4 separate regions of the Homo sapiens genome follow, and all the other regions are reported to be linked to region 1. Evidence: microRNA targets listed by miRTarBase, many of them from high-throughput screens and not tested one by one. Region 1 holds a microRNA gene; each other region holds the end of a gene's coding sequence.
The links. Region 1 holds the annotated microRNA hsa-miR-6881-3p (AUCCUCUUUCGUCCUUCCCACU, at 1,006-1,027, shown strand). A microRNA usually pairs through its seed, bases 2 to 8, with sites in the 3' UTR of a target mRNA and lowers its output. Matches are read on the target gene's strand: a 7mer-m8 pairs with bases 2 to 8, a 7mer-A1 pairs with bases 2 to 7 and ends in A, and an 8mer does both.

Region 1 (3,110 bases):
TGGAGTGGGGAAGATGACAGCCACCTCGCAGGGCTGTGGAGGGTTAAACGAGGTGATGCATGGACAGCAGCCGCACTGACCTTGCTGGTGTGGGGCTCCTGCTTCTGTTCTTCCCGTGCAGCCTTGGGAATGTTGGAGGCCGTATCCAGGGACCCCTGGGCCTCCTGGGATGGCCTCTCTGGATCAGCCTTGGAAGGTTCCAGGCTGCCCTTAGGCTCCCACATTCTTCCCCAGTCACGCTCTCCTCGCCCTGCCCACACCAGTCCTGTGACCCTTGCCTGAGTTGTGACTTCCCACCCCTCCCCGGCCTAGAGGAAAGCTGCCTGGCCCCTCAGTGGGACTCCCGCCCACTGACCCTCTGTCCACCATACACAGACAGGGGCACTATCCACAAGGTGGTGGAACCGGGGGAGCAGGAGCACAGCTTCGCCTTCAACATCATGGAGATCCAGCCCTTCCGCCGCGCGGCTGCCATCCAGACCATGTCGCTGGATGCTGAGCGGGTGAGCCTTCCCCCACTGCGTCCCATGGGCTATGCAGTGACTGCAGCTGAGGACAGGGCTCCTTTGCATGTGATTTGTGTGTTCTTTTAAGAGCTTCTAGGCCTTAGGGCCTGGACATTTAGGACTGAGTGTGGGGTGGGGCCCGGGCCTGACCCAATCCTGCTGTCCTTCCAGAGGAAGCTGTATGTGAGCTCCCAGTGGGAGGTGAGCCAGGTGCCCCTGGACCTGTGTGAGGTCTATGGCGGGGGCTGCCACGGTTGCCTCATGTCCCGAGACCCCTACTGCGGCTGGGACCAAGGCCGCTGCATCTCCATCTACAGCTCCGAACGGTACGTTGGCCGGGATCCCTCGTCCCTGGGAGAAGGTGGGCATGGGAGAGGGGGAGGTGTTGTCGGGCTGGAGGAGGTGGCGGTACTGGGCCTTTCTTGTGGGACCCTCCTCTCTGCTGGAACTGCACTGGGGTAAGGATAGGAGGGTCAGGTCTGCAGCCTTGTATCTGCTGATCCTCTTTCGTCCTTCCCACTCCAGGTCAGTGCTGCAATCCATTAATCCAGCCGAGCCACACAAGGAGTGTCCCAACCCCAAACCAGGTACCTGATCTGGCCCTGCTGGCGGCTGTGGCCCAATGAGTGGGGTACTGCCCTGCCCTGATTGTCCTGGTCTGAGGGAGACATGGCCTTGTCCTGTGGGCCCCAGGTACATGGGGCAGGATACAGTCCTGCAGAGGGAGCCCTCTTGGTGGGATGAGCGAGACGGGAGAAAAAAGGAGGACGCTGAGGGCTGGGTTCCCCACGTTCATTCAGAAGCCTTGTCCTGGGATCCCAGTCCGTGGGGAGGACACATCCTCCCCTGGGAGCTCTTTGTCCCTCCTCACGGCTGCTTCCCCACTGCCTCCCCAGACAAGGCCCCACTGCAGAAGGTTTCCCTGGCCCCAAACTCTCGCTACTACCTGAGCTGCCCCATGGAATCCCGCCACGCCACCTACTCATGGCGCCACAAGGAGAACGTGGAGCAGAGCTGCGAACCTGGTCACCAGAGCCCCAACTGCATCCTGTTCATCGAGAACCTCACGGCGCAGCAGTACGGCCACTACTTCTGCGAGGCCCAGGAGGGCTCCTACTTCCGCGAGGCTCAGCACTGGCAGCTGCTGCCCGAGGACGGCATCATGGCCGAGCACCTGCTGGGTCATGCCTGTGCCCTGGCCGCCTCCCTCTGGCTGGGGGTGCTGCCCACACTCACTCTTGGCTTGCTGGTCCACTAGGGCCTCCCGAGGCTGGGCATGCCTCAGGCTTCTGCAGCCCAGGGCACTAGAACGTCTCACACTCAGAGCCGGCTGGCCCGGGAGCTCCTTGCCTGCCACTTCTTCCAGGGGACAGAATAACCCAGTGGAGGATGCCAGGCCTGGAGACGTCCAGCCGCAGGCGGCTGCTGGGCCCCAGGTGGCGCACGGATGGTGAGGGGCTGAGAATGAGGGCACCGACTGTGAAGCTGGGGCATCGATGACCCAAGACTTTATCTTCTGGAAAATATTTTTCAGACTCCTCAAACTTGACTAAATGCAGCGATGCTCCCAGCCCAAGAGCCCATGGGTCGGGGAGTGGGTTTGGATAGGAGAGCTGGGACTCCATCTCGACCCTGGGGCTGAGGCCTGAGTCCTTCTGGACTCTTGGTACCCACATTGCCTCCTTCCCCTCCCTCTCTCATGGCTGGGTGGCTGGTGTTCCTGAAGACCCAGGGCTACCCTCTGTCCAGCCCTGTCCTCTGCAGCTCCCTCTCTGGTCCTGGGTCCCACAGGACAGCCGCCTTGCATGTTTATTGAAGGATGTTTGCTTTCCGGACGGAAGGACGGAAAAAGCTCTATTTTTATGTTAGGCTTATTTCATGTATAGCTACTTCCGACTGCATCTGTATGAAAATACCAAAACTACATGCGGGGGGGTGGGTGGGAAAGGGAGGGGCTGGGAAGGGATGGGTTGGGGAGCGGGGGTGATCCCAGTCTGAGGCTCCCGGGGATGAGATAAGAGTCTGGAGACGGGCATGGGTTCTTGGAGAGTGGCATGAGCTGGCTCTGCCCTGGGAGCCCGGTCTGAGGGGGACGTTGTTGGAGCCCCTAGTGTTGGGGGTGGTTATGGGAGGGGGTGGGGTGAGGGAAACGGGAGAATGAAGGAGAAAACTGAGCCCTAGTTTCACCGTGTTCATTTGGAAGGACGAGCCGGGTCCTCAGGGGGAGGTTCCAGGACTCTGCCCTTGGCGTTGAGGGTTGGGGGGCGGGGGGCCTCCTCCCTTCCTCTCAGCCCCCTTCCCCAGGGGCTGTGCTTCCATGCTCCTAGCCTCCCACCTTCGCTCAGGACATGTTATAACTTAGGCTAAACTGTGAAAATTCCGGTGGGGATGGCCTGGGCCGAGCTCTCCAGGCAGGCGGCCCTGCCCCCAGCCCTGTCCATCCATTTCAGGGGGGAGCTGGGCCCTTCTCCGGCTGTGTCTGGCCACCCAGGGCAGTGGCTGGGGCCAGTGGCCTTCCAGCTTTGGCCCCTGCACCTCTTCTCAATGCACTTTAATAATGTAACATATTACTAATAAACAAGCTATTTATTTACCTGCGCCTGT
Region 2 (3,110 bases), not on the chromosome of region 1:
TAAGTCTATAAGAGAATTTCCATACTCAAGTACAGCCCAGATTCCATAATGCTAGAGTAAAAAGCACATGAGTGGAAAGTCAACAGGACTCAATGGCCACATAAAGACCAATATTAGGCATTTGTGAGTGTGGTAACATGCGTCCTGCACATCAGGACACAGTGATCTGTTGCTTCCCATTTCTCCCAAAACATAGACTGATAGGTAATAAAAGGCACACATTTTAAAAACATTTTTGCAGCTTTTTAGTTGATTCATTAAACTTGCTTTATTCATCAATATTAAAGTCAGGAAGTAAAAGTGTAATAGCCATGATAACATTCAAAATAGCATTTTTGATGATCTTAATTATTTTTAAAGCCTTCAGTACCTAAAATTTATATATATACTTTCATATTCCCCCCTCTAATACTTTCCTTGCATTAACCTGGAGCATACACAACTTTGAAAAGTCAAAAATCGAGATTGTTTTCCAGGGTAAAGATAGTTGAAGGCTGGATAATAAGGATTTGCTGATGTATCGTTGCTGCTGTTGTTAAGATCTCAGTCAATCCCTCCTGGTTGCTGAAGCCTGAATAAATAATAAGAATCTCTGGTTATTTGGTTGTTTATCCTACTGTTCATAAATAATTCAAACTCCCACAAAACAGTCACTTATTGAGGTTACACATATAAATGTATGGTGCAGTGCTGTGCAGAAAGCATGGCCCATTAGCTCTAACTCACATCAGCTCCCAGGCCCTACGTCAGCTGACCTATCTAAGCCTTTGTTTCTCATCCATAAAGTGCCTGTTATCATATCTATCTCACAGAGATCCTCTCACAGATAAAGATTACACAAGGCCTTCTGGGCAGCAGAGACAATTGGAAATTGAGGCTGAGTGAACCACAGATGTTTGTTGCCTCCATCCACTGCAAAACAGGATCTGATTGGATGAGTTTGTGACGGAGTGATATGGAAAACCCTCAATCGTTATGGTATCTCACAGCCATTGGGCTCCCTCAGATGCAGAGAACACATGAAAGCCCTTGGCTCACACAATGATCCAGGTCCAGTCAATCATGACTGGAACAGCAGGACACAGGATCAGTTTCACTCAAGCTAGATGGCTCAGGCTTGGGTCCACTCTCCCCAAATGGGGCTTTTAGAAATGCCAGGTACTTAGGAGCTTCACAGTTTCCCCTCTAGTATTAATACTTATTGTATTTCATCAAATCCAAGATATACCAATTGTAAGATGCACCATTATTATATGCATCACTGATAATTTTATGCATCACTGATATTTTTCAAAAGGCATCCTGAATGTTATAAGAAGCTGACTGATATCAGAGATGTTAGAATAGGATCTCAGAACGGATGAAATATGTTATGAAATATGGTTATGGTTATGCAAATACCTAGTCATAACAGTCATCAATAGAAGTGTAGCTCCTTTTTGCCCACCTCAAAGGCAAAGCCTGTGTCATCTTTATACCCACTATGGAACCTAAGACTGGATCATGATGGAATGATGGCAATAAAAAACATAACTGATATTTACTGAGCACTTTATTTGTGTTGCAGCGCAACTTTATATGAATTAATACTCAAGATAACTTTTATTGCTTGTTTTGGTAAGTACTATTATTCCCACTTTGCAGATAAGGGTACTGAGACTTAAAGAGAAGTTAAACATCTCAACCAAGTTAGGAAGATGCTTGGATTACAAACCCAAGTCTATCTAATGCTAGATCTACACCTTCTAAGCCACTGTGTTACACTGTCCTTAAGGAGGGTCAGGTTGTGGGTGTCAAGACTACAAAGGCAAGTAACACACGTGAGAAGCTCAGGCCAGAATCAGAGAGAAGGATGGTCAAGAGTTTTGGAGATGAGGTAACTTAAAGAACTGGGTCATGGATTTTATGAGAAAACTTGCTTAAAATCTCCAATTTGAGGTCCTCTGTCCAACTTTCTCATTCCTTTAATTTGGGAGTTAGGCTTTTGCCTCCAGGAGTGAGGGCTGTATTGGACACAATGAAATCAATGTGAGAACATTATTTTCTAACTCATGATTCAGGACCCAGTCACCATGATGCACTGATTTTTTTTCAAACTTCAATTATACTTTAAAAATACATTTGATAAAAGACATTCAATTTAAACATTTCCCAAGCTGATGTTGAATAATTTAAACATTTTCCCTTCTATCTGAGACAGAAAAAATAAATACATAACTCTGAGAATGTACATAACTCTGAGAATCAATCACCTTCATTTCCCTATTCCTTAATGATATTCTGTAATGAGCTGTGAACATATACCTGTCTTTCTGCTGAGCCTCTTCCATCAGCATTTTACCATTAAATGGGAAATAGGGGTGGAGAAGGCTGAGGTAGGAGTACACAAATTACTGCAGGGAACAGAAATTAAGGGCATTTTCCAACTCCAAAGATCAGAATATAAAACTGTTCATTCTCTCAAGAATTAAAGCAGCATAACATAAAAAAAATTAACACAAGAAAATGCAGCAATGGCTTCAAGACAGCGTATTCAGAAGCAAAGCTGACCCTTTACCATATCACCCTAGTGGATCCATCACTCATCACTACACCATCCGATACACAGGGTCACCAACTCTCAGGCTTCCAATTTTTTCCACTGAATAATAGATCCCAAAAAGTGGAGACAACTTGTACAATTCCCTCTCAGAAGGATCACACAGGCGGTAGCTGAAACAAGCAAAAATTCAATCATCAGACACAAAAAGGAAATAATAATCGAAGTATTCTCAATAGAACTCAAGTTTGCCTTCCAAGTTATTTATAAATACACAGCAAGAATTTTCTAAAATGTTGCGAGAGAAGTCTGTGGACAATTAGTCAAACTGCAAATAATTCTAGTTTTTCTAGAAGTATCCTGAAAGTCTACGCAATTTCTCCATGGCTTCAGTTTAAGTCCAAAAAGAAAAAAACTTATGTGTAAGTATAAAATAAATACTTTGTCTATATGGGTACCTTCAACTTCACAACTCATTGAAACAAATGCCCCTAAAACTCAAAATGGAATGGCCCTGAACTCTACAAATCTTCTGTTTAGTGCATTTAAGCACCATGCTTTCAACCCCCTC
Region 3 (3,110 bases), not on the chromosome of region 1:
AGTCTGCCTTAGGACTGGGTTATGGGAAGTGGGGGTGGCTGAGGGTTGCTGGCCTTGGTAAATGACCTCACTATCCTCTTCCAGGGAGCCCAGAGGAGCGTGGTCTGATACAGTGGAAAGCTGGGGCTCATGCCAACAGTGACATGTCTTCCAGCCTCAAGAGCTACGATTTCCCCATTGGGATGGGCATAGTAAAAAGAATTACCTTTCTGAAATACATTCCTATCTGCCCAGTCTTCAAAGGATTTTCTTCAAGTTCAAAAGATCAGATTGCAATTCCAGAAGACACTCCAGAAAATACAGAAACTGCATCTGTGTGCACCAAGGTCTGAAAAATGACTTCCAGGAAAGGTAGGATGTGTCTATGGTTTTTGTGGGAGGGTTGAATAATCAAAACATTCTTATGCTTTAACCAAAGAAAAACCAAACTACTCAGTTCTCTTTCTTGTAAACTGTTTGAATGTCCTCAAAGAGAAGGTGAGCTGGGTAAAAAGTCAACATACGGATTTTGGGTGGAATTCCTTTACCATTTCATAGTAACAGCAGAACTTCCCAACTAGTGTGGGCCACTAAGAGGCTACAAGTATGCTGAAATGCAGATCCTCTAGCCTTCCAGACACCTGGGCAGAATCTGGGCCAATTGGAGTCCTTGAGCTAAGAACTCTAGCCACTGGCAGCCTCATTCTTGTACTCCAGTATGCTAAACAAGTATCACTTTGATATGCGACATGGAAAATGTTGAGAAATGCAGCACAAGAACAGGAAAAATCCTCTCATATACACTGCCTTGTCTCAATAACGTCATAAAATTAAAACCCTTTAAAACAGGATGCCTTTATCCTAAAACGATGCCTGTACAAGCCCTGATGAGGTGACACTTTGTCCTTAGGTCTTCAGAACGCATGGGCAGCTGATGCTCGGAAACCTTCCATCACTATCTGTAATGCAGATGCCTGGCTCTCTACTAAACACTGAAGTGGGTTCAATGTGCACGTTCCCTCAGACAGACAAGAAAAGTTCCCAAAAAGAGAGGTTAGCCTAGATGACTCCTTAATAGTAAAAATAACAACACTTAAAACAGGACTTTCTATGTCTTAAGTACTTATATATATTAACTACTCACATAATCCAGAGACAGTTATTACTGCTATTTTAGAGATGTGGAAAGGAAGGTACAGAAAGGTTAAGTGATATGCCCATGATCACAGGATTCACATCCAGGAAGTCTGGCTAGAGTTCCCTTTTCCTTTTTTTTTGAGACAGAGTCTTGCTCTGTCGCCCAGGCTGGAGTGCAGTGGCGCCATCTCGGCTCACTGCAACCTCCACCTCCCGGGTTCAAGCAATTCTCCTGTCTCAGCCTTCTGAGTAGCTGGGATTACAGGCGTCTACCACCATGCCCAGCTTATTTTTGTAGAGATGGAGTTTCACCATGTTGGCCAGGCTGGTCTCAAACTCCTAACCTCAAATGATCCACCTACCTTGACCTCCCAAAGTACTGGGATTACAGGCGTGAGCCACCGCACCCAGCCTAGAGCCCCCTTTTCTTTTTTTAAATTTTTTTCCCAACAAAAGCCACATTCAAGAATCTTTACTCTTAAGGGCGATCACCTGAGGTCAGGAGTTCGAGTCCAGCCTGGCCAACATGGCAAAACCGCATCTCTACTAAAAAAATACAAAAATTAGCCAGGCGTGGTGGTAGGCGCCTGTAATCCCAGCTACTTGAGGCTGAGACAGGAGAATCACTTGAGCCCAGGAGGCAGAGGTTGCATTGAACTGAGATTGCATGACTGCACTCCAGCCTTGGTGACAGAGTGAGACTCTGTCTTGAAAATAAATAAATAAATAAATAAATAAATAAATAAATAAAGGCTGGGTGCGGTGGCTCACGCCTGTAATCTCAGCACTTTGGGAGGCCGAGGCAGGTGGATAACCTGAAGTCAGGAGTTCAAGACCAGCCCGGCTAACATGGTGAAACTCGGTCTCTACTAAAAATACAAAAATTAGCCAGGTGTGGTGGCACACAACTGTAATCCTAGCTATTTGGGAGGCTGAGGCAGGAGAATCACTTGAACCTGGGAGGTGAAGGTTGCAGTGAGCTGAGATCGTGCCACTGTACTTCAGCCTGGGCAACAGAGCAGGACTCCGTCTCCAAAAACCAACCAACCAACCAACCACACACTGGGGTACAGGTGCCCACACCAAAGAACCTCCCCCATACCCACTGCCAGAAGAATGTGAGTCAGAACTGACTATATGGCTCTCTTAATCTTTTTCAACCTAATAAGCTCAAAAAAAGCCCTTGTGAAGAACAAAAAACAATGGAGGTTCTATTAGAGTAAGGTCACCATCATATTGGTCAGCCATAAAGTTTCTTACATGACTATCTAGGATTCCCCTGACACTGAAGTCTGAGGTGATTAAGAAGCAAGGATGGGCAATGGAGTTATTCTACTGCTATATTCTGGAAAGGTACTTGCATGGCAACATACCTGTTAGAATCTAACAAAGCCTGAAAGCTTAGCACATTTTGCCAGCAAGATTGTCCTGAGGCACTGGGCCCATACTCAAGTGAGTAACACCACTACAGTACATTCCAGCACCAATAAACACAACCATCTGCTCAGTTCTACTATTATTTATTTTTTTAAATATTTTTGAAAAAATATAATTTTTTTACAATATTTTCAACTTAAACACTATTCACACTGAACACGTATGGCAGCTTAACCTACCCAAATATGAAGTTTAAGAAGCCAAAACTGTTCTAGCTTTGTTAAAAGTTGTGCTGCAGACTCTCGTGATGGTTAACAAAGCAAGGAAAAGCACCACTCAAATCATGTTACAGTATCTTTGTTCAGCTGGATTATGGGTTGGTATTGGTCATATGTTAGACTCCATACAGGCATAGCTATGATGCAGTGAATCCCTTAGAAGTTACAATTCTCAAATTACATACTTCCTCAGATGTAACATTAGAACTCAATATTTCTAACAATAACATACCAGAAAAGGCTGGACTGGCACTCATCTGCTGACTAACTTGTAGCCTCAGTAATATGACATACTTGCCTTTAACAAATTATCTCAAATTAACTAACAGACCTTCAGAA
Region 4 (3,110 bases), not on the chromosome of region 1:
GTGAAACTTTTTGCCACTGAGGAGAATGTAGCAAAACAGGAGGAGAGGAAGAGGAGGAAGAGGGGAAGGAGGAAGAGGAATCAGAGATAGAGCTCAGAGTTAGGGATTTTTTTTTGTATTTGTTTTCACTCAGGGTGCCCTGAATTAAAAAGTAATGAGACGTACTGTACTAATCCTTATTTTACACACTAGTGTTAAGAATAACAGTGCTGTTTCACATACATCACAGCTTCTAGAGATAAAGACGTGTGGGTATGACATACCTCATTTTTGGGATTATTTAACCCTTCGTAGCCTAGAACATATAATAGCTCTGTAAGAAAGGACTGTCCAGTGTCACAAGCAGACTAGAAAGCAGAGTGAGGTCAAAGGATTCTGGGAGCACCATGATAAAATATAACCCATTCAGAGCCTGGTTATGTGCTTTCATTTCACTTTAAGCAGGTGTGCTGGCAGATGGACTTCCAACATGTAGATAGATGTATTTATTTGCTCATCAGAACTTTCTAAACTAAAAAGTCATTTAAAAAAAATAACACCACCCAAACAAAATTAAAACCAACTTGTATATGAAAATACAGGGAAGAAATGCTTTTAAAAATGTTAGATTTAAGAGACTTAAAGCAAACCTTAGGATTGCCTCTATGCAGATACTTAAAAGCCACTTAAAACTGTTTCCAAGGCCTACATTTAACCCTCCCCCCACCCCCCGCCCCAAAGCTAATGGATTGTTTTTGATTTTAAAGAAATGCCTGGTGTATATGTATTTGGAGAAGTGTCTTCCCAGCCTTGTAAACTTTGGTTGTCTACACAGCCTGCAGCACTGCTGACTTTCCTAAAGCACACAACCACATCCTGGGCTACTGTTTTCAAAACTAACAAGTAGTTCTGGTCTGGACCCTGGACAACGAAGGGTTAATGGATTCATACTATACCTTGCTGAACATGTTTAACCTGCTGATCATTTGGAAAGTAGTACTGGTGCTTTTCAAAATTCCGATTTTGGTCCATCAGATCAGTCTTTGGCTGACTTCCCTTTTTGTAAGAATACTGTATAACCTGGCATTCAGCAGTGTTAAAGCTGTCAATCTACACCTCAGCATTTGGAGCTCTAATGATTTTTACTTTTGTAAAATTAGAAATACTTAAACGACCTTACAGCAATATGCATGCACTGTCCTTTTTTTTTAAAGTAGGATATCTTGTTATTTTATTTTTTTAAAAAAGTCCCTAATAATGATTTAAAAAAAAAAAAAAGAAAAATTCCACGACTACTCTATGCTACAGCTAAACTTGATGAAATGGCTCTAGCATATTTAAAAAGAATTTGCTCAAAAAAAAAAAAAAAAAAACAAAAAGCATGCCTAGGGAGTCATTGTGACAGTGCAAAATACATTTATGTACATCCCTCTTACAAAAACACCAATATGTTAGCATTCCGTGAAGCATGCTGGTTTTCAGGAAAAAAAAAAATCCTATAAGAGAGTGAAATAGCAGCTCCGAAAGATAGCTTTTCTTCTTTTCTTTTCTTGAGGACAACCAAAAAGAGTCTTTTTTTCCTTTTTTTTTTTTTAACTACTAGAGAAATATCACTAATACATACAGATATAAAAGCAGCATAGAAAGATACAGGTTTCTCACCAACTAGGAATAAAGAGACTAAATGTGGGCATATGGTTAAACTACAATGCATCTTCACATTTGTCCAACACATTTACAAGAAAAACACCATTGGGAAACCTCACAGGACAGAAGTGTTTTAACACCAAGAGAACTACTAGTTTTTAATTAAAAATCCAAACAGGGTGGGGTTGAAAAATTTTGGAAAGGGGCTGGAGCTGAAGCCACCATTTTTAAAATTATTTTTTTCAATATAAAATGAATGAGCTGGAATAGACCCAATGTCTTACTCTGTGGAACCTTGCAAAAGTGAAGAAACGTTGAAGGGTTATTTAGGGCAGCTGGCTGATGTCAAAACTGCCAGAATGCTAATTAACTGCAGGCTGAGTCTCTTACTTGTGTGTGTGTGTGTGTGTGTGTGTGTGTGTGTGTGTGTGTGTGTGTGTGTGTGTATATGTGCGTGTGTGTGTGTGTATATATATATATATATATATATATATGGAGCCTTTTGTATTATGGCATTTTTTTTTCTTGCTGCTGTATTCATACATCCCATTGCAAATCATCTTTCATTTTTCATTCTGTTGACCTGGATATTATTATTTCTTTTCAGAAACAGGAAAAAAACCGAACATCTGTGTCTCCTTCCAATCTGCTGCACATCTGCGCGTTTTGTAGCGGGTCTTCAAAGTTCAGTTAGCAACCCACGGACGCCATTCATCTTCTTGTTAAAATGTCTACTGCTGTATCCAATGCTCATGCCCTTGAGGGTTTTCCTCTTTTTTTTTTTTCCATTATTGTATATAAAGAACATTGTGACTTTTAATATTAGCATTTTTGCTTTCAACAGCAATTAGCAATCTCTTGGTTTGCTGTTTGGTAAAGCATCGGTTAATGAGGTCATCTAGTTTAAAATCCCAGCTACTTGAAAATAACAGGGAGGAGGTCAAATCTATCATTTCATGTTATATTCTCTGCTCTCTTTTCAGTTCTCTAAAGAAAAGATATCTTTGTTATCCACAATAAGTCATTACGACCCGTTACTGGCCCTCTGTGTTTTACTACCACCTCAAGATACAGTTAGGTTCTCTCTTGCTGAAGTACTGAAATAGGATAATTCATCTAATAAACAAACAAACAAAAAAAACAACTTTGAGCATCTGAGGATGAGGAATTGGTTTCGCGTTGGTTGTGTTGTCTTTCCTCCGACAGTTCTGAGTTCACGTCTAGCGAGGGGTTGTCTCTATGGTGGAAGGGGTTCCCGGGGTGGTTGACCTCGGAGTGGCTGCTGGTGGTGTGTCCATCGGGCTCCCAGCCCCGCTGTTGGGCGTGACAGAGGAGCTGACTGCAGGTGTGTCTCCCTGCTGCTGGGCCTGCAGGGTCTGTCCACAGATGTGATGGTGCTTCTCCCAGTCTTTGTGCTGGCAAAATGAGCCACAGTATCGGGCTGTGTTACAGCCACTGCAGGTTTCACTCGCTTTACGGCCACA

Region 2: miRTarBase lists MTARC2 as a target of hsa-miR-6881-3p. The part of its 3' UTR that is shown has no 7-base or 8-base seed match.
Region 3: miRTarBase lists SLC23A1 as a target of hsa-miR-6881-3p. The part of its 3' UTR that is shown has no 7-base or 8-base seed match.
Region 4: miRTarBase lists RUNX1T1 as a target of hsa-miR-6881-3p. Seed matches in the 3' UTR shown: 8mer at 2,394-2,401.

What each region holds. Positions count from the first base shown.
Region 1 is chr15:74,409,278-74,412,387 of GRCh38, reverse strand. It overlaps MIR6881 (microRNA 6881), which reads left to right and starts at 956; the gene lies at 956-1,031. It overlaps SEMA7A (semaphorin 7A (JohnMiltonHagen blood group)), which reads left to right. Exons shown (of 14, transcript NM_003612.5): 11 at 376-503; 12 at 678-832; 13 at 1,032-1,093; 14 at 1,403-3,099. The coding sequence ends at 1,764. RefSeq lists enhancers at 1-238, 239-739, 2,745-3,004, 2,648-3,110.
Region 2 is chr1:220,781,380-220,784,489 of GRCh38, reverse strand. MTARC2 (mitochondrial amidoxime reducing component 2) reads right to left here. Exons shown (of 8, transcript NM_017898.5): 7 at 2,558-2,712; 8 at 1-571. The coding sequence ends at 2,589. Among named protein-coding and RNA genes, the nearest start is that of MTARC1, 4.0 kb to the left of the region's middle.
Region 3 is chr5:139,369,228-139,372,337 of GRCh38, reverse strand. SLC23A1 (solute carrier family 23 member 1) reads left to right here. Exons shown (of 15, transcript NM_005847.5): 14 at 85-351. The coding sequence ends at 332. It overlaps PAIP2 (poly(A) binding protein interacting protein 2), which reads right to left. Exons shown (of 4, transcript NM_016480.5): 4 at 2,621-3,110. Among named protein-coding and RNA genes, the nearest start is that of SLC23A1, 13 kb to the left of the region's middle.
Region 4 is chr8:91,957,396-91,960,505 of GRCh38, forward strand. It overlaps RUNX1T1 (RUNX1 partner transcriptional co-repressor 1), which reads right to left. Exons shown (of 12, transcript NM_175634.3): 12 at 1-3,110. The coding sequence ends at 2,847. Among named protein-coding and RNA genes, the nearest start is that of RUNX1T1, 140 kb to the right of the region's middle.